3 linked regions of the Homo sapiens genome follow. The protein of the gene in region 2 interacts with the protein of the main gene of each other region in a biochemical or structural test. Each region holds a gene or a part of one and is shown on either strand. Other genes may lie near its edges.

Region 1 (7,038 bases), on a different chromosome or scaffold from region 2:
TTATTATGAACTAGAATCTAGACTTCTGTACCTTTTTTACCATAATCTAAAAACTTTAAACACACAAATCTATTTAAGGTAAACTTCAAGAAACAAAGTATTCTTAAGTGATTTAAATTGCAAGTATTTACATTTAAAATTACTTTCATGTGTTCTTGAGGAAAAGAGATAGTCTTAGAATTATCTCATGGGACTGGACCCTTGCACACTGAAACACATTGGAAGAGAACAACAGAGAACAGGCCAGGTGAAGAGATGGCAGCGCTGTGTCTTATTTTTACACTTCATCCTAGAACTGTAAAAGCAATTCCACCTGGAGAAATCTTGGCATTTCACAGCTGCTGCATCAAGAAGAAAGAAATTGTAGGGAGCAGATAGAAATTACAAGAACAAAATATTTTTCTGGATTTTCTTAGAAAAACACAAAGATGGAGAAATAAAAATATAATCAAGCAATTGTGACACAATTAACTTGTTTAATTTCTGCAACAGCTTAAGTATTTCCAGGGAAATCTTGTTTAAACTTTTATTTTGTTAGCAAACTATTTAACACACATTTGAGATTAGCACAGTCTGACTGCTACTCAAGACAGACATCACAAGTATTTGATTAAGTGAGATTGATGAAATTTTTATCATATTAAAACCTTAAAATGTCTAGAAAGTTATGATTATAGGCTGAGTGTGGTGGCTCACGCCTATAATCCCAGCACTTTGGGAGGCTGAGGTGGGCGGATTACTTGAGGTCAGGAGTTCAAGACTAACCTGGCCAACATGGTGAAACCCCGTCTCTATTAAAAAAAATCCAAAAATTAGCTGGGTGTGGTGGAGAGCACCTGTAATCCCACCTACTCGGGAGGCTGAGGCAGGAGAATTGTTTGAACTCCGGAGGCAGAGGTTGCAGTGAGCGAGATTGTGCCATTGCACTCCAGCCTGGGTGACAGAGCCAGACTCTGTCTCAAAAAAAAAAAAAGTAAAAAAGTTATGGCTATAAAACAAAGTCTTAATTCTGATGAAATGTTAATACTATGTCAACAAACTTACAAATTTGGAAGTCTATATTCTTCACAATTCTTTAATTTTATTGTGCCATTTGTTCACAAAATAAAGATTAAAATGAAATTAGCTTCTACTACCAATTACACAGAAATAAAAGGAACAGTGCTCCAAGTCAACACAGATCCAGGGATCTTACTCATATACTACATTGCAGGCATTGCTTAAGCTCCAAGAAAGGCATCATACATACAACTCTTTAACCAGAAAACACTTACAAGCAGCCTCTTGTCTAAGTTGGCTTTTCTCAAAGACGAGGTAACAGAGTTGGCATCTTTTTCTGCCATCCATGCTTTGAAAAGCTTGACAGCAAATGAGGCCGCAATGCCTGTTGAAAAACAAAAGAGAATTTCATTCCTTTTACGAGCAAAACCAATTGTGATGGTGTGCAAAGCAACCAGGTTTCCTGAAATGTGTAAATAACTAAAAGACTAATTTTGGTACAAATGAAAAGTCAATAGACCTCTAGGCAAATTCTCCTCTTCTCATTACTCAAACTAGAACATTTTCAGGAAAAGGAAAATAAATTAAAATATTTTTCAAATTTGGACTCCTTGAATCCAACCTGGTCTAACTGCAAGTTTATTTTATTTTACCTTGGTCAAAAACATATTTCACACCCAGTATCTTTGGTGTTATTGCCTTTATTTCACCCTCTGGTTCATATGTATTTCATCTTTATAACAGTGATCTTGAGGCACAAGAAAGTAAATTAGGAGACACAAAACTGTAATGTCACCTTTATCAAGTAATTTGCTAATAAAGGATGCCAGTACAAGAACACTGATAGTGATAGATACAATAAGTATTGCTACGAATAGATGAACACATATCATTTACCTTAGTTTTGCTTTTTATAAAAAGCATTTTATTTATTTATTTTTATTTTTATTTTTGGGGGGATGGAGTCTCACTCTGTCGCCCAGGCTGGAGTGAAGTAGCACGATCTCGGCTCACTGCAATCTTCACCTCCTGGGTTCAAGTGATTCTCCTGCCTCAGCCTCCCAAGTAGCTGGGATTACAGGCATGCACCACCACACCCAGCTAATTTTTGTATTTTTAGTAGAGACAGGGTTTCGCCATGTTGGGCAGGCTAGTCCTGAACGCTTGACCTCAGGTGATCCACCTGCCTTGGCCTCCCAAATTGCTGGGATTGCAGGCATGAGCCATTGCACGCAGCCATAAAAAGCATTTTAAAATATTCTTGAGTTAAGCTATAAAAATACCAAGGCTGTTTCAAGTTAAACTCTTCTGGATTTAAAAAAAAATCATTATTAAGCTAGTTATGTTAAATCAGGAAACCATTTAATCACATGTCCACATTTACATTACCACTTATTTCCAAATAGAAATAATCAGATAACAAGAAGACAGTTCTATGAACACTTCAAATTTCTAAATTTATGTTGCGGTTATTTAATGAAGAGTTAAGATGTAACTGAAACATTTAACTGATTTTTCTAAACTGAAGGTTCTACTATTGTTATGAGCTAATGATAATGTGGCCTAAGCAGCCTCTATTCTCTTTACCTCCTTCCTAAAAGAGGTCCCCTTTTATCCAGTCCAGGTGACTACTGATTAGTCTAAGTCCTGGTACCACCCCTTTCTGATGATTAATTTAGTGACCTCGCTTAAGCTCATCTGCCCAAGGCACGCCCCTGGCAATTGCTACTGGACCTGCACTAGTCATGCAGCCTGTGTCAGCCAATCAGCTGAAGGAAAGATAAATTATCCTCTGTTCAGGAGAAGTGTTCTTCCACTGAACCTGAACCAGGAAGAATATGCCATAACTGTGTCAGCAGGCATCTTATAACAACTAGAGGGGGCACCATCCTTGGGATGAAGTTAATGCTATGAATGATAACAGGAGAAAAATACTTAAGTCCTGAATGATACTGCTGTTCAGCCTGAGGTCTGTCCTAATTTTCTATTTATTGTTACATAAGAAATCCATGTCCTTATATACCAATTTGACCCAGGTCTTCCAGCAACTGGAAAGTAAAAGCATTTAATTGGTCTATCATTCATATAGACACCAACTAAACCTGATTTTCTTCCCTTGAATAAGCAAAGAAACTAAGTTAAAAAAAAAACAAAAACGGCTATAACAACAAAACATGCATTACACCTTAACTGAAAGTTCATGTTAAACAACTTAAGATGAATTTTTAGCATTATCATTAGCTCATAAAACCAATATAAAATTTAATATAAATTAACACTAGGCTGTAATCTGTATCGTAAAGAAAAACTACGCTTGAAACTAGGAGCCTAAAACTGAGATTTAACTTTCTTTATAGTTACTCCTCTGAGTAGGATAATCCCATCTCCCTTGGTCATTTATTGGATGAGCTGGGGAAAATGATTAATTTCTTAACCATTTTCTTTATTTCTTTTTTTTTATTTTAGATAGTCTTTCTCTGTTGCCCAGGCTGTAGTAAGATGATGTGATTATAGCTCACTGTAGCCCCAAACTCCTGGGCTCAAGCAATCCTCTTGCCTTAGTCTCCTGAGCAGCTGGGATTGTACAGGTGTGCCAACACACCTGGCTAGTTTTTAAATTTTTTTTTGTAGAGAAGAGAGTCTTGCTTTGTTTCCCAGACTGGTCTCAAACTCCTGGCCTCAAGCAATTTTTTTACCTCAGCTTCCCAAAGTGTTAGGATTACAGGCATGAGTTACCATACCCAGCATTTTCTTAATCCTTTTCCAATTAGGAAGCAAGGGTTTAAACCTCTAGTTTGTAAAAGATGGCAGAGTTTAAGGAAAAGCCATATAACAGAGGTACTATGTTACTTCCATAGCAAAGTTATTTTTCTCCTCACCACCCCCCAAACATTTTACTACAATAATTTCCAGACATACAGAAAAGTTGAACAAATTGAACAATGAACATTCACATGCCCACCATCTAGTTTCTATAACTAATATTTTGCCGTATTTGCTTTATCAGATATCTATCCACCTAATAACGTAATTTTTGGATATATTACAAAGGAAGTTACAGACATCACTTAGGTTTTTAAAAAAACTAGAAAGGCAATTATTTTCTGTTATGTTGGCTAGGATAATTTAAAATAATTAATGATTAACATTTATATTCTATGTTGACTTTCTGTGTGCAAAATGGCTAATAGCAAAAATAAGATGTGTGTTGTATTGTGAATTTTCTTCAGGGAAATACTTTAAAATGTCATAATACTAATAACATCTAACAATTACAGAGTCTGAATTGTCATAAATCTGAGTGATTTTAAGCTAAAAACTAGGAAGAGTCTCTGAATAAGACCAATTGACTCTCAATTTACTATTCTTTCCTTAGCTACAAGAAAACTATGACTCCTTTCTTTCACTATAGGCATGAATGAAGCTAGGACTTCATATATGTAGGAGGAAAACTTTAAGTTCTCAGAAGAAACAGATGTTCTCACAAAAGCTCTTTTAATTTATTTTTAAGGAAAAATAACTGTTTTGTGTTGCATTGTAATTTGACTATCATTATCCTCCTACAAGTAAACAGCCGACTTTTATTTTATTCTATAACCAAACCATGGTATGCATGCCTATCCAACCCTTAATGCCTTAAAATTAAAACAAGACTCCTTCTAATGCAGCAGACTTAAAATTGTTTTCTAAAACTGAGACAATGAGTATCTTAAAAAGTGCAATCAAAATGAATATCTGAGCATCAGTTTCTCTAGACCTTGAGAGGGGAACAGTTTTTGTTCTTATAATAGGGGTGAAAGTTAAAGGCTGCCATTTTGTGTCGAAGGGCAAAAAGATTACCAGATCGATTTCGGGGTATTTGACCTAGGCATCAAGTCTTCCATGAGATTTTAATTTGCTATTAGTCTTTCTTAATATGTCTTTGTACAGGTGTGCATATTTTTTCCTTCAAACTTCCTACAATTAACAAGTCCACTCCTTTTATTATTTGAAAGGCAATATACACCCATACAAAGATATTCTCTTAAATGAAGAATGAGTAATAGAGGACACCAAAAAGAGCCACTGGCATTTTTCTAACTATCTGTGACTTTATTTTTCTTTTGTTGTCTGACAGGCGAGAAAACAGGAGCCTCGTTACCTTCTTTGACTAAGCTGTCGGTGAAGAGACTGGTGAGGATGGTGGCGGGCAGGGTGCCATTGCCCAGCAGAATCCCCGACAGCATCGCCAACTTTGTCTGCTCTGTTTCGGAAAAGGCTTTAAGGAAGAGGAGAAGCTGTGGGTCAAAAAAAAAAAAAAAAAAAGAAAAAGAAAAAGAAAAAAAAAGGAACCATGTCTATGAAGCAAAGGACTGAAGTGGGAAGATAAACTGTGAACATCCATGGCTACGTGGCACACAAACAGAAGGTCATATGCAAAGCATAGTAATTCATTTCATGATAAACTGGATGCTGTGGAAAGTGACTTGAGCAGGCAGAGTTCCTTTCTTCTCAGTTAATTTACTCACAGCTGTAGATAACATTCATGGAAAGGAAAAGAGATATTTGGATGATATGTAAACAGATGGATTTATGTTTGACTATGTGCATGCAAGAGAGTTAAGTATACATGATGGACATGTTTTCTGAAATGTATTGTTTTTCAAGTTTTTCCACTTCCTTGGGCGACTACCTCTTCCCCTGCTACATGTACCCATTTTCTCTGAATAGAATTTGTACGGCAAAAACATAGAAACAAAAAAAAGCCCCACACAAACAAAAAAAAAAAACAGGAAAGAGTCGAAGTTAAGCTTTTGACATTTAATATATACTTTTCTGAGCTCACGGAATACAACAGTCTTCAAAACAAGACTGTTGAGGGAGAAAGGGGTTTTCTAGGTTCTTGATGTTTTTTTGGTAAACTTTTAGATTCTCTTGCCCCAGAGGCAGGGAACTAAAAAAGTAGCAACCCTAGAAAATTTGAATGTAAGCTCAAAGCAAATAAAACGAAAAACCCACTTCCTGTATTAAATTCTAAGAGTAGTCAGCCCTGTGGGATGCCCTTCTCTCTCCTGACTCTCCTCTGCTTTGTGCTTTGACTACATTCTACTGTTACTTTCTCCATTTCAGCAGTTATTAGGCTTGCCATGGAAATTCCTCAGGGGCCACTATCACCACAGGGGCCTTGCTGATTTTCCATTATTTTGCGCCAATGCAAAATTCACTGGCATTGATAGAGACTTAAGTGTCTCCACCCTGATGACATGATTATTCCACTAACTGTGTAGGGGATAAGAAAATATTAACTTACTATTCCCCAAGAATTGAAGGATTATTATATTATAGACTATTTACATTATGTGAAAGTGGCAGAACTGGAAACAAACCAGTCCATTTGCCTCTCAATTTATACCTATTAAATTCTCAACAAATTAAAAAGAAGTTAACATCTAAGTAAGTGCCAGGGAGTGAGGGAATGAGGGATTGAAAGGCTTAAGTTCCAAGGAGCATCAGAAATGGGGAAGAATGAAAGAACTAACATAAATATAGACAGTTCATGTCAATTTGTCCTTTTCCTCCATTATAAAAATAAATAACATTTAAACGAGAATAATAAAAATTAGCCTCTAAAATAAAATTTTAACACCACTTCTTTAAGCTCACACATATAACCATATTCATTTAAAATATACTTAATCACATAGAAATGGTACAAAAATTAGATCATCATAAAAATAATAACCACATTGCTCAATTATATTAATCAACATTAAAACATAATTACATGTATACACACATATTGTTTTTTACTGCATTATATGCTAATGATAGCTAAAACTTGTTGAGTGGACCAGACACTCTTCTGATCCCTTTATGTGTATTAATACCTACAACAGTCTCCATCTCCAATTACAGAAAAGAACACTAAGGTACAAAGATATTAAGTAATTTGCCCCAGGTCAAACTACTACCAAATGGTTGCTTTGCACCTCGCATTTCCACTTAATTTGTCATGGGCATTTTCCCTTATTAATACATGTAGTTATGCCTACAAGTATA
Region 2 (7,038 bases):
GTGAAAAAAAAAATCCCCAAAGGATCATATGCTTTTTTATTTTATATATTTTTAATTGTTCTTGTTGCTGTGTAGGGAGTGGAGACGTGGAGAAGGGCGAGATGAGGACAGGTCTCATAGAAGAGATGAAGAGCGGCCCCGGCGTCTGGGGGATGATGAAGATAGAGAGCCCTCTCTTAGACCAGACGATGATCGGGTTCCCCGGCGTGGCATGGATGATGACAGAGGCCCTAGACGTGGTCCTGAGGAAGATAGGTTCTCTCGTCGTGGGGCAGACGATGACCGGCCTTCCTGGCGTAACACAGATGATGACAGGCCTCCCAGACGAATTGCCGATGAAGACAGGGGAAACTGGCGTCATGCGGATGATGACAGACCACCTAGACGAGGACTGGATGAGGACAGAGGAAGCTGGCGAACAGCTGATGAGGACAGAGGACCAAGACGTGGGATGGATGATGACCGGGGGCCGAGGCGAGGAGGCGCTGATGATGAGCGATCATCCTGGCGTAATGCTGATGATGACCGGGGTCCCAGGCGAGGGTTGGATGATGATCGGGGTCCCAGGCGAGGCATGGATGATGACCGGGGTCCCAGGCGAGGCATGGATGATGACCGGGGTCCCAGGCGAGGCATGGATGATGACCGGGGTCCCAGGCGAGGGTTGGATGATGATCGAGGACCTTGGAGGAACGCCGATGATGACAGAATTCCCAGGCGTGGTGCAGAGGATGACAGGGGCCCTTGGAGAAACATGGATGATGATCGCCTTTCAAGACGTGCTGATGATGATCGGTTTCCCAGACGGGGTGATGACTCAAGACCTGGTCCTTGGAGACCATTAGTCAAGCCAGGTAAAATTCTATTTCCTAGAATATGCTTAAGTGTTCACCTGTAAAAGTGAAATTCTGATGGATAAATATCAGGGCTGTATTGTTATTTTCCAGATAAACTGGTCTTTCATCTTTCCTTCAGTATCATTTGCAGTGACTTCGCTGTCAAAAGTTTGCCTTCAGAATACCACCATCCAAAACATAAATAACCCAACCCCTCTCTTCTTTAGTGATGTGCTCTTTGTTTTCCTTCTGCTTCGATGACTGCTTCTTTGAAGGCTCTTCCTGTACTCATGCTTTCAGTATTGGTGTATTTTTCAGGTTTTACTGGGAACCAGCCTCCTTTTAAAAATAAATAATTGAAACCAAAATGTACTTTATATATTTATTTTTGCCAACTGAGAGATTATGCAAGGAGGAACTCATTTTACTTTACTTTTTTTGAGACAGGGTCTTGCTCTGTTGCACAGGCTGGAATGCAGTGGTGCAGTCATGGCTCACTGCAACCTTGACCTCCCGGACCCTAGGGAGCCTCCCACTTCAGCCTTCTGAGTAGCTAGGACTACAGGCGCATGCCACCACACCCTGCTAATATTTTATTTTTTGGAGAGACGGGGTTTCGCTATGTTGCCCAGGCTGGTCTCAAACTCCTGGGCCCAAGTTATCCTTCTGCCTCTCCCTCCCAAAGTGAAGTGCTGGGATAACGGGTGTGAGGCGCTGCGCCCAGCCTCATTTTTTTTCTTAGTCCTGGGCCTGCTTATTGTTTCACACTTTATTATTCGTGAGCAGTTGTATACATGTTTGTGACATGCGTCTATTACCATTTTTTTTCTTTTTGAGGTGGAGTCTTGCTCTGTCTCCCAGGCTGGAGTGCAGTGGTATGATCTCAGCTCACTGCAACCTCTGCCTCCCAGGTTCAAGCAATTCTCCTGCCTCAGCTTCCCAAGTAGCTGGGACTACAGGCACATGCCACCATGCATGGCTAATTTTTTTTTTTTTTTTTTTTTTTGGAGACGGAGTCTCGCTCTGTCATCTGGCTGGAGTGCAGTGGCGCGATCTCCCCTCACTGCAAGTTCTGCCTCCCAGGTTCATGCCCTTCTCCTGCCTCAGCCTCCTGAGTAGCTGGGACAACAGGTGCCTACCACTATGCCTGGCTAATTTTTTGTATTTTTAGTAGAGATGGGGTTTCACCATGGTAGCCAGGATGGTCTCGATCTCCTGACCTCTTGATCCGCCTGCCTCAGCCTCCCAAAGTGCTGGGATTACAGGCATGAGCCACCACGCCCGGCCATTTTTTTGTATTTTTAATAGAGATGGGGTTTCACCATGTTGGCCAGGCTGCTCTCGAACTCCTGACCTCAAGTGATCCACCCACCTCGGCCTCCCAAAGTGCTAGGATTACAGGCGTGAGCCACTGCCCCGGCCAGTTTTCTCTAGGTAATTTCTGCGTACTGCACACAGGTGACAGCTGCTTACTGCATATAGCACATCTCCACTTGGTAGTCTTACTGAATGTCTAACACAGCCTATCCAAAACTGGACTCATTACCATCACATACACGTGCACTTGTTCACGCCCACCCATCCCTCTGATTCTCTTCAGGGGCATCACTGTCCATCTAACTGTCTGAGCTAGGATTCTGGGAGTTGTTTTGTCTCTGTTTCATCCTTTATGTTAAATCTTTAGTTCAGTTCTGCCTTTTTGATGTTCCTGAAATCCACCCTCCTCTCCATTCCCATTGCTTGTACTTGGTCCTGGGTCAGCATCATTTTCCTCACCCGCTAACTGGTTTTTGCTGCCTCTCTTACTCCCAGTTTTAATTTTGGGTGTCAGGGAAATAACCAGAGCAGTTGTTGTAAGTGCAGATCTAAGTGAGCTGCTTCCTTGCTTTCCCCAGTTGTTTCTGTTGCCTACTTCGTCTCTTCTAGTCTCACTTCATTCTGCTGTTCGGCTGTTACCTTGTGTAAGACATTTAATTTTTCTTTTCCTCATGTTAAATGGGGTAACAGTATAGCAGATTCTTACTAATTTGCTAATTATATTTTATACAGTTGCCATGAATACTGAACTCATGTTCCTAGGGTAAATACAAGGTTAGGTTCTTGTAAGCTTCTAGTCATGATATTTTTGTCAACCAATCAATACATAAAATGTCTTTTATGTGTTTGTGTTTAAAGACTCCCTATTTCTGATATGTTGTTGATTCATTACCATTGAATTCATGGTCAACAGCATTATAACTCATTCATGAACAAAGCTTATCTAATACATGTATTTTCTCCTTAAGGCATATCATAGCCACCTTGTGCTTGGGGCCACTAAACAGCATTTGTTTTTTCTCTTTTTGAGGTGGGGCCTCACTGTCTCCCAGGCTGGAGTGCAGTGGCGTGATCTCAGATCACCGCAACCTCTGCCTCCTGGGCTCAAGAGATCCTACCACATCAGCCTCCTGAGTAGTAGACTATAGGTGCACACCACCAAGCCCAGCTAATTTTTGTATTTTTTTGTAGAGATGTGGTTTTGCCATGTTGCCCAGGCTGGTCTTGAACTCCTGGGCTCCAGGGATCCACCCTCCTCAGCCTCCCAAATTCCTGAGATTACAGGCATGAGCCACCACGCCTGGCCACTAGACAGCATTTTAGCACTACACTTGGAGGCCATTTTAAACAGTGAGGTCACCAGCAAATTTACATCTCTATATGTACTGTATATAAAATGTTCCTAGATTCATATATTCCATGCATAAGTGTGAGCCACTGTGCAGGGTTAAAGGATTTATTCATGATTAATGACTAGATAATGGGTGGCAAATGGTGGAGGACAGGAATATAAAAGGAAAGATTGTTTTTTGGATATGAAGGGCTTGAAAACGTTGCAAGGTATAAATACCTCAAAATTGGGACTCAGAGAAAACTCTTGAAGTTTCTGCTTAAATGAGTGATCTGTGTAACATCAGAACAGATACTATGCTGAAATCTGCGTGCAATAGGAAAAATTCTAAAATTTTCAGTGATACTTTTGTTTTATGGAACACTTAACACAGATCATTTAAGGTTTTTGGTATTTTTTTTTCTTTTCCTGTTTGTTTTTTGAGACAGTCTCATTCTGTCATCCAGGCTGGAGTACAGTGGCACTATCTTGGCTCACTGCAGCCTCTGCCTCCCAGGTTCAAGCAGTTCTCATGCCTCAGCCTCCTAAGTCAAGTAGCTAGGACTACAGGCGCACCACCACACCTGGCTAATTGTAGTTTTAGTAGCAACAGGGTTATTACCATGTTGGCCAGGCTGGTCTCGAATTCCTGACCTTAAGTGATCCACCTGGCTCGGTCTCCAAAAGTGCTGGGATTACAGGTGTGAGCCACCATGCCCGGCCCATTTTAAGTTTCTCATATAAGTTTAAGATACTGTTAATGATGTCTGTGCAGTGATGTACACAGCTTTAGTATTTTTTTAATCAGTGTCTTAAATTAGCATTTAGAATGATGATGAATTAATGCCAACGTCTATTCATGATTGCCAATCTGTTTCTTCTTTTAAAAATATTTTAAAAATGTTTTGCTTTTTCAAAAAAACAGGTGGATGGAGAGAGAAAGAAAAAGCCAGAGAGGAGAGCTGGGGTCCACCTCGAGAATCAAGGCCATCAGAAGAACGTGAATGGGACAGAGAAAAAGAAAGGGACAGAGATAATCAAGATCGGGAGGAGAATGACAAGGACCCTGAGAGAGAAAGGGACAGAGAGAGAGATGTGGATCGAGAGGATCGCTTCAGAAGACCTAGGTGTGATGCTCTAATTAAATTATTTGTAGAGGCCGGGCGCAGTGGCTCATGCCTGTAATCCCAGCACTTTGGGAGGGCGGATCACCTGAGTTCAGGAGTTCGAGAGCAGCCTGGCCAACATAGTGAAACCCCATCTCTACTAAAAAATACAAAATTAGCCGGGCGTGGTGGCGCATGCCTGTAATCCCAGCTACTCAGGAGGCTGAGGCAGGAGAATTGCTTGAACCCGGGAGGCAGAGGTTGTGGTGAGCCGAGATAGCGCCATTGCACTCCAGCCTGGGCAACAAGAGCAAAACTCCGTCTCAAAAAAAAAAAAAAAAAAAAAAAAAATTCCCTCTTAAAGTAAGAAAATGGAGGCCCAAACTTCGTGGCTGTCCAAAGGCTGTGTGACCCGTTGGGCATTGGAACCAGTCCAGCCATCTTTGTCAGTCCGTTGCTTTTACCCCTGTGGTTTAGGGCAGTCAGTTTTCTTGCCCTTAAATTATCAAAAGCCCTTTGATTTTATTAGTAGTAGAAGTTCTAGCTTGTTCCCGCTGCCAAAGTGTCCTTGTACTGACAAATGTAGACCAGCAGTGTTCGATGCAATTTTCTTCAAGGAAGAAAATGTGTCTGCTGGCCAGTATGGTAGTCAGCAGTCACATTTGGCAGCCAAGCACTTAGAATATATGGTTGATGGTCCTAAGGAAATATCTCCGTTTTACTTTAAATGTAAGTAACCACATATGGGTAGTGGCTAACGAGTGGGACGGCACAGATCTGGGTGTTCTCATTTGTTCTCCACGCCCCAGGCATCAGGTAAGGTCAGGTTATGAGTTTAAACTGTCTGTTATATTTGTAAACTCTAAGCCCCAGCTTGGACTGGATGTACTTATAATTATCCATTTGGTCTAACAGTAAGAACCTGACCTGTCATTGTAAATGGCTACAGGGATGAAGGTGGCTGGAGAAGAGGACCAGCTGAGGAATCTTCAAGCTGGAGAGACTCAAGTCGCCGGGACGATAGGGATAGGGATGACCGTCGCCGTGAGAGGGATGACCGGCGTGATCTAAGAGAAAGACGAGATCTAAGAGACGACAGGGACCGAAGAGGACCTCCACTCAGATCAGAACGTGAAGAAGGTATAGAGGTTACATACAACTGAAGTATTGGAGAACTGTCGTTTCTGGGGGGGGGGGGATTTGGGTTATTTAATTATATCATAAATTTGTATGAAGGCCAACAATAAGAGAGTTGATATTCTATTTAGAATTCATGATTTTCATACAGTTACTCAATGGTCATGTTGTAAAGTGCACTTATCTCTAAATTCAAAGTACAGTAGTAGACTAAATTGGATAGCAGGCAATATATATAAAGTTTACTTAATAAAAATGAAAAAAATTGTTATTTAAAAGCAGCTTCCTGGCAGATTAAGCACAAAGTAGAAACATTTTCTCTGAAATTGTAACAGAAGTTTATTCTGTTTTAAAATATATGTATTTTTCATTTTTAAAATCCTCATTTTTCTCTTGGTTTTTAAAAATTAATTTTCCATATGTCTTGACATCCTGTTATGAGAGAATTTTTCTCTCATAGCCATAACTTTAAAAACTCCTGTATTTTGTATGGTTAATTTGCTGTTAAAATTCTTCAAGAGCCAAAAATCCTTTCAGTTATAAAATTTTCATTCAGCCAGATTTTTGCCACCTTGTCTTACGGGTTTATACTAACTGTAGTCCTTCCCAGGCTAGTGGTTTCTGCCTGTTTTCAGATTTTGAGTTTTATCTGTACATTTGTATGTTAAAGATTGTCAGAAATTGTATGAGCTTTCATTATGATTTCTGTATTTAACAATACAGAATTTAACAGAATTTCTGTATTTAACAATGATTTCTGTATTTAACAATCTTTAGTACAGGAATTTTGAGTAATTTGAGCCAATAGAATATAGTACTAACTTAATTTTTTTTTTTTAATTAAACTTTTTAGTAAGTTCTTGGAGACGTGCTGATGACAGGAAAGATGACCGGGTGGAAGAGCGGGACCCTCCTCGTCGAGTTCCTCCCCCAGCTCTTTCAAGAGACCGAGAAAGAGACCGAGACCGAGAAAGAGAAGGTGAAAAAGAGAAGGCCTCATGGAGAGCTGAGAAAGATAGGGAATCTCTCCGTCGTACTAAAAATGAGACTGATGAAGATGGATGGACCACAGTACGACGTTAAGTCTCAAGATAATGGATTTAAACTGGTGTCTTAAATAGGTTTGATCACATTCAAGGATTATTATACTTGTGCTTCAACCAATCTAAATTGGATTCTTTAATGTTGTTTCACCATAACACAAAAAGCATGAACTTGTATTAATCCTATATAATAGATTGATCATGCACCATATCCACAGGAGGTTGGAAAAACCATGCCATTTTCTGGAATTTAAGGGTGTTGCATTATT
Region 3 (7,038 bases), on a different chromosome or scaffold from region 2:
AGTAATTGACTCTGGGTCAGTTTGCCAACCACGAAACCCCAGCACAGCTTACTGTGCTTACGTGGCCAATTCCAATGTTTACGAGGTATATTAACTGAGCAACATCTTCTGTTTAAGTCAAATGTGGTAAGATATTTGTTATCATCTTGTACATATTAAATTCCTCATCAGAAAAAAGTTGGGATATTTATAGATAGTACATTCTGGTTAATAATGGAAGAGATCAGTTAATTAATGCCAAATCAGTTATTTAAAAACACCTGTTGGCTGCTTTTCTGTTACAACTTTGTCGGTAAGAGTTGATGAAATAACTTTTTTTTTCATAAAATGCTATGACAGACTGTACGTTAGGATATGATTATGTACATGCAAACAAATACCTACATAATTGACTAGGTGAAAAGTCAAATTTTTAAGCTAAAGATTTTCAATTATAAAAGCAATGTATGTTTATTTTGGAAAGGTTAAAACAGAAAAAGTATAAAGAACAAAGTCACCTGCACTACTACTAAAAACAAGAGATAACTGCTGTGAAGGTAACTTCCGTTCCATCTTTTTCAAAGTATGTATATATTTTTTAAAGAGGTAGCAGAATTATGCTTTGCTTTTTACTTGTTAGCTCACTAGTATTTCTCTACATTATTATTGACAGGATTACAGTACTACAGAAGCACATATGGTGGGTAACAGTCAATGAGAAGAGTGGGTCTCAATCATAGCTATACAGTAGAATCACTTGGGAAGCTTTAAAAAACCATGTCCTAGCTCCACCTCGTCTAATTACACCAGAATTTCAAAGGGTTCAGACAGGATCTCGGCTTTAAGTATCTAGGTAACTCTAAGGCACAGCCGGGGGTGAGAAGCACTGAAAAATATGAGTGAGCATTCCTGGCGTCCTACCGCCTACAAGTACCCACTCTGAATCTTTACAGAAGCTATAATTTGTGTTTCTTTAATTATAAGTATGGTTAGATATCTTTTTATAACTTTGACATTTGTATTTTTCCAAACTGTATCTATATCTATTTGGCGCTATTCCAAGTATTTTCATTATTATTATTATTTTTGATACGGAGTCTGGCTGTCACCCAGGCTGGAGTGCAGTGGCGCGATCTCTGCTCACTGCAAGCTCCGCCTCCCGGGTTCACGCCATTCTCCTGCCTCAGCCTCCCAAGTAGCTGGGACTAAAGGTACCCGCCACCACGCCCAGCTTTTTTTTTTTTTTTTGTATTTTTAGGGTTTTTTTTTGTTATTTTAGTAAAGATGAGGTTTCACCATGTTAGCCAGGATGGCCTCAATCTCCTGAACTCGTGAGCCGCCCACCTCAGCCTCCCAAAGTACTGGGATTACAGGCATGAGCCACTGTGCCCCACCTATCATTTCACTTTTAATAAGTCTCTGACATATTTGGGATTTCAGCACAGAGAGTGAGATGGGAACTCATCTTTTTTTCCCAAATGACTATCCAGTTATGCTACCAGCACAATTTATCCTTTTTATCAAAAGCTTGAATTTTCAAGGGTCTCTGGGGTCTACTTCTAGAATCTTTATTCTGTTCCACTGCAGTTTAACCACACAATGGAATGCTTTGCAATCATTAAAAGTCACTTAAAAAACTAATGGACGAACTATAATAAACTTGAAGATAACCTTGTTACTGAAGACATCAAATTATAAGAAAACTAGTTTTCTCTAAATTAGCTTATAAATTGAGTATTATCTCCAAAATATCTAACATACTAGCAAGACTTGTGTAATTTCAAACACTGATTCTAAAGTTCATTAGACGAAACAAGCATAGCAAAGAATATTTGACAGGCTGGGCGTGGTGGCTCACGCCTGTAATCCCAGCACTTTGGGAGGCTGAGGTGGGCGGATCACTTGAGGTCAGGAGTTCGAGACCAGCCTGGCCAACATGGTGAACCCCATCTCTACTAAAAATACAAAAATTAGCTGGGCATGGTGGTACGCACCCATCATCCCAGCTACTGGGGAGGCTGAGGCACGAGAATCGCTTGAGCCTCAGAGGTAGAGGTTGCAGTGAGCCAAGACTGAGCCACTGCACTCCAGCCTGGGTGACAGAGCAAGACTCGGTCTCGGAAAAAAAAAAAAAAATCCCACAAAAGAACAAAAAACTAATTACCCTAAGATATTTTTAAAAATGATAGCTTTTGGCAGTGCAGGGTGGCTCATGCCTGTAATCCCAGCACTTTGGGAGGCTGAGGTGGGTGGATCACATGAGATCAGGAGTTTGAGACCAGCCTAGCCAACATGGTGAAACCCGTCTCTACTAAAAATACAAAAATTAGCCGGGCATGGTGGCGGGTGCCTGTAGTCCCAGCTACTGGGTAGGCTGAGGCAGGAAAATCACTTGAACCTGTGGGAGGCAGAGGTTGCAGTGAGCCAAGAGCGTGCCGCTGCACTCCAGCCTGGGAGACAAAGTGAGACTCCATCTCAAAAAAAAAAAAAAAAAGCTTTTTAATAGCTATTGTATGAATTGTATGGTAATAAAAAGGAACAGAATAAGTGATAAATGGAATGAAAATCCAGAATCAAAACCCAAATAATGCAAGTGTGATAAAAGTGGCAATTCAAATCAATAAGGAAAAATGGATTATTCACTTTTATTCTAATCTAAATAAAATTAGATCCTTATTCAAACCAAAGCTACCAAAGTAATAAGAATTACATAAGTGTTTATTTTTAAGATCTTGGAAAAGGAAAGATCTTTCTAAACACAAAACCAAATTCACAGACCATTACAGAAAAAAGACTGGTATACTGAACTATAAACTTCAAATATAATGCACATAAGAATAGGCTGCCCTATTCTTTCCTGCAGCTTTTTATAATATATGGTCTGAGGAATGGTCAAATTCTAGTATATTTAGAAGTAGTTTTCCTTTAATTTCACATTTACACTGACCTTTGAAGTAGCAATTGGCGGAAGTTGCCACTCTGTGGGCTAATTGTCAGATGATGGGACAGGTAATTACACAGGCGAGCTCCCATATAAGAGAAATTTGGGATAGATGTGGCCTTTTAAAAAGAAGAAAAGTGTTATATGACATAGGTACATCATTATTAATGTAAATACTTAACAGCAACATTCTAAAGAAGAAAAAATTGACTCCCCAAACTGACCATATATACAAGTCTTTTGTCATTGTTAGGCTTAAGGAAATTAAATTCACTTTCCCTCCCAACCTTACAGCAAGAACCACAATAAGTACAAAAAAAAAAAAAAAAAGAAAAAACCCATCAGTTACCTGAGGCTACCAGAAAGCGAAGAGATAATGTCTCCTGATGCTAACCCATTTTTTGCAGAAAACCTGTACATGTCCTCAACTGCACAGTGACAATTATGAATGAGAATACTGCCAAACTGTTGACCAGTGGGGCTTCTTGGGGCAGGAAAGCACAGACTTTTTAGTGTTTGGCAGTCCAGGACAAGATTCCCTGGCATTTTGCTTCATGACTTTGGACATCAGTAAACCTCCCTGAGCTTCAGTTAGACTTTAAAGAGGTGATTAATGGTAACTGGCACAAGCAACTAACACTTAAACACTCCAAGAATGATTGGGTAAAGGGGAAATGAAAACAGCTAAGCTACTTAAAAACAGAAAAAAAAAAAAGTAAGAAAACACTACACATCAAAGATTGTTGATATAACTGAAGCAGTGTTCAGCAAGTTTAACTTTAATTGCAATTTCTAAAGAATAGTAGAGAACATAGTTTACCATCTAATATTAGGTAAGAAAACACACATTAAAAGGTTAAGAAGTCGGGCACAGTGGCTCATGCCTGTATTCCTAGTACTCTGGAAGGCCAAGGCCAGAGGATCGCTTGAGGCCATGAGTTCAAGACCAGCCTAGTCAACACAGTGTGACCACCATCTCTATAAAAAAATTTTAAAATTAGCTGGGCACGGTAGCATGCACCGTAGTCCCAGCTACTCTGGAGGCTGAGGTGGAAGGATCACTTGAGTGTAGGAGTTCAAGGCTGCAGTGAGCTGTGGTCACGCCACTGCACTCTAGTCTGGGTGACAAAACAAAGCCCCCATCTTTTTAAAAAAAAAAAAAAAAAAAAAAAAAAAGCTAAGGGACTTGGCCACAAATGTAATTGAACATAGAATCTAGATCTAACAAATGTCCTGCTACCCCTCTGACTCTATATGTTGGGTCTACTTACTAACTTTTATTTCTAATTATTTCCTTGCTCACATGGGGCCAGTATATGTCACATTAAGGGAGAAAGAGTGATTTCTCCTGACATCATGTATGTTTAGCTGGTACCCAAGACTTGGTTCACCCTTACATTTTTCCCATTATTGGCACTGCATGTTTTCCTTTAGCTTCTTTTTAGTGTTATAACACGATTTAAAGACAAGTTCTATAAGGCTTGTCATTCAACAGTTTCCTACTTACATCCCGGTTTTACTCCCAAAGACAACCACTTTTGACTTCTTCAGCCAAAAATGTTTTAATCCCCATATCTCCGCACTACGTAATTTTTCAGTTTAGATGTTATTTCTTACTGCAACTTGAGCATCCCTGTCCAAAAATCTAAAATCCTCCAAAAACAGAAAATATGAGTGTCCACATAATGCCAAAAGTGGAAAATTCCACACCTGACCTCATGTGACAGGTCAGTCAAAACACAGGTGTACAACACATAATTTATTCAGCATCCCCAAAGGAAAAAAGACCCTGTCAACCCCCTTCAGCTGTAATATACTTAGGTACCCTCCCTGAGGTGTCTCATTATATACTGGATATGCTAAATCTGAAAAAATCCATCTGAAATGCTTGAAATCTCAAGCATTTCAGATACGGGATACTCAACTTACAGTTTCCCATCATGGAAGATGAGCTTTTAGCTTTCACCCTGCTTAATTTCACCCCACTCTACTATTTCCTCCTATCACAGTATGGTTATGATTTTATTCATTTGCTGTGTTTTCATTTATAGCTGAACCATGTATTACACTGCTTTTACTTTTGCACAACTTTGTCTTCCCTAGATTCAGTTTTTACTACACTTTTATATTCTTCTCATTGATTTATCCCTAAACTCACTACTCTGTAAATTTCTTCTTATGTCTTACAGCATGTGTGCTCATCTTATTACGGAAGTCTTTCCTGGAGCCTTCTGACCTAGTCCAGTGAAGCCTGGCTGCTTCAGACCTACTATGCATGCTGCTATTGTTTTGAGATCTCCTTTGAACCATCATCTGGACAGTTCACTTAGTCTCTCCTGTAGAGTTCCTTTTCCTGGTTCCCATGTCTTCATCCGTGGCATAACTCCTCTTTTTGACAGAGTACGTCCTTTGTTAATTTCATAAGAAGGGTTACAACAAAATTTCAAACCGGCTGTTCAGTGTAAAAAGATCTGGATGGTCTAACTTTTTAGATTCTCAAGCAATCCTTTTAGCCTCATTCCATCCTTATTTTAGAACCTTTTAGGTTTTGCACTGTAAGTCATGGTGATTCTCAGCTTTACCACCACTGGCTTGGAATTCAACGTTAGATCTGCCAAATCAGGTACCACTCACCCACCTGCTTTCTAGTCTTCAAAACTAGTGCTTTTCTTTTCCTCTTCTCTGTCCCTATGAGCTTCCGCCTTTTAAAAATCCCCATAGCATCATTTTAGTGGTGTTTGGGAGATATCAGAGTTGAATGTGTATTTAATCTGTCATTTTTTTTTTTTTTGATTCAGAGTTTCGCTCGTTGCCCAAGCTGGAGTGCAGTGGCGCAATCTCGGCTCACTGCAACCTCCGCCTCCCGGGTTCAAGCGATTCTCCTGCCTCAGCCTCCCGAGTAGCTGGGATCACAGGCATGCACCACCAAGCCCAGCTAATTTTGTATTTTTTTTTAGTAGAGACAGGGTTTCTCCATGTTGGTCAGGCTGGTCTTGAACTCCTGACCTCAGGTGATCCACCCGCCTCGGCCTCCCAAAGTGCTGGGATTACAGACATGAGCCACTGCGCCTGGCCTAATCTGTCATCTTTTGTAATACTTCCTCGTTTGTTAGTTGCTATGAGTAAATTTCCATAAATTACCTCAATGAAACTTAGCAGCTATTGATAAACCTATGCATCATTGATCATAGAATATTAAAACATTAAACATACTGACTACATATTTGACAATCAGAGAAATAGTTGACGCTTATCAGGTTACTGACCCTTTGTCCAGCCCTGAATAAGTATAATTACGCAGCCTACTGAATAACTGAAACTAAATAGTGGAGGAAGCCAGAAAGGCAACAAGAAATAAATACATTTGTTTCATTTTCTTATCTCATATTCCTTTTCAATCCATTTATCAGCAGAAAGCAGAAATGAGGACAAACAGTGCAGTTCTGTCTTCCTAACATCTCAGGTACTTCCTCAAAACTGACAGTTGGCTAGGTAATCTTGGGGTCCAGTAACCATCCAGAATAACTTGGAAAAGCAGCCAAATGAAACATTAGGATAGAAAATAATCATTAATTTGCATTATAATCTCCCTTCCATATATTCCAAATTTGAGTTGCTCTTGTAACAGTGACTTAAAGAACCTAAAGTTTACATTTCTGATCATGGCCCATTTTTTTTGACCAGTCTCACACTGACTAAGAAATTTTGTGTTAAGCCAGTGTTGTCTACTGTATTTTTCACTTTTAAAATAGCATTAATGAGGCCAGGTGCAGCGGCTCATGTCTGTAAAATCCCAGCATTTTGGGAGACCAAGGCAAGCAGATCACTTGCGGTCAGGAGTTCGAGACCAGCCCGGTCAACACGGTGGAACCCTGTCTCTATCAAAAATACAAAAATTAGCTGGGCATGGTGGTGCACACCTGTAATCTCAGCTACCTGGGAGACTGACGCAGGAGAATCGCTTGAACCCGGGAGACGGAGGTCGCAGGGAGCTGAGACTGCGCCACTGCACTCCAGCCTGGGAGACAGGGCAAGACTCCATATCAAAAAAAAAAAAAAAAAAAAAAAAAAAGCGTTAATATGTTAATGACCAATATGCTGGGATAAAAACTAAATGT

The links.
Region 1: the proteins of EIF3A (region 2) and BZW2 form a complex in vitro, tested with the Homo sapiens proteins (one study listed by BioGRID).
Region 3: the proteins of EIF3A (region 2) and PAIP1 form a complex in vitro, tested with the Homo sapiens proteins (one study listed by BioGRID).

Annotation. Positions count from the first base shown.
Region 1 is NC_000007.14:16,684,143-16,691,180, reverse strand, and holds part of BZW2 (eIF5-mimic protein 1), read right to left. Parts: intron 5,277-7,038; coding exon 5,141-5,276; intron 1,385-5,140; coding exon 1,275-1,384; intron 1-1,274. UniProt on the Homo sapiens protein: Translation initiation regulator which represses non-AUG initiated translation and repeat-associated non-AUG (RAN) initiated translation by acting as a competitive inhibitor of eukaryotic translation initiation factor 5 (EIF5) function.
Region 2 is NC_000010.11:119,035,810-119,042,847, reverse strand, and holds part of EIF3A (eukaryotic translation initiation factor 3 subunit A), read left to right. Parts: intron 1-75; coding exon 76-854; intron 855-4,408; coding exon 4,409-4,610; intron 4,611-5,538; coding exon 5,539-5,729; intron 5,730-6,579; coding exon 6,580-6,809; 3' UTR 6,810-7,038. UniProt on the Homo sapiens protein: RNA-binding component of the eukaryotic translation initiation factor 3 (eIF-3) complex, which is required for several steps in the initiation of protein synthesis.
Region 3 is NC_000005.10:43,540,078-43,547,115, forward strand, and holds part of PAIP1 (polyadenylate-binding protein-interacting protein 1), read right to left. Parts: intron 3,040-7,038; coding exon 2,927-3,039; intron 1-2,926. UniProt on the Homo sapiens protein: Acts as a coactivator in the regulation of translation initiation of poly(A)-containing mRNAs. Its stimulatory activity on translation is mediated via its action on PABPC1. Competes with PAIP2 for binding to PABPC1.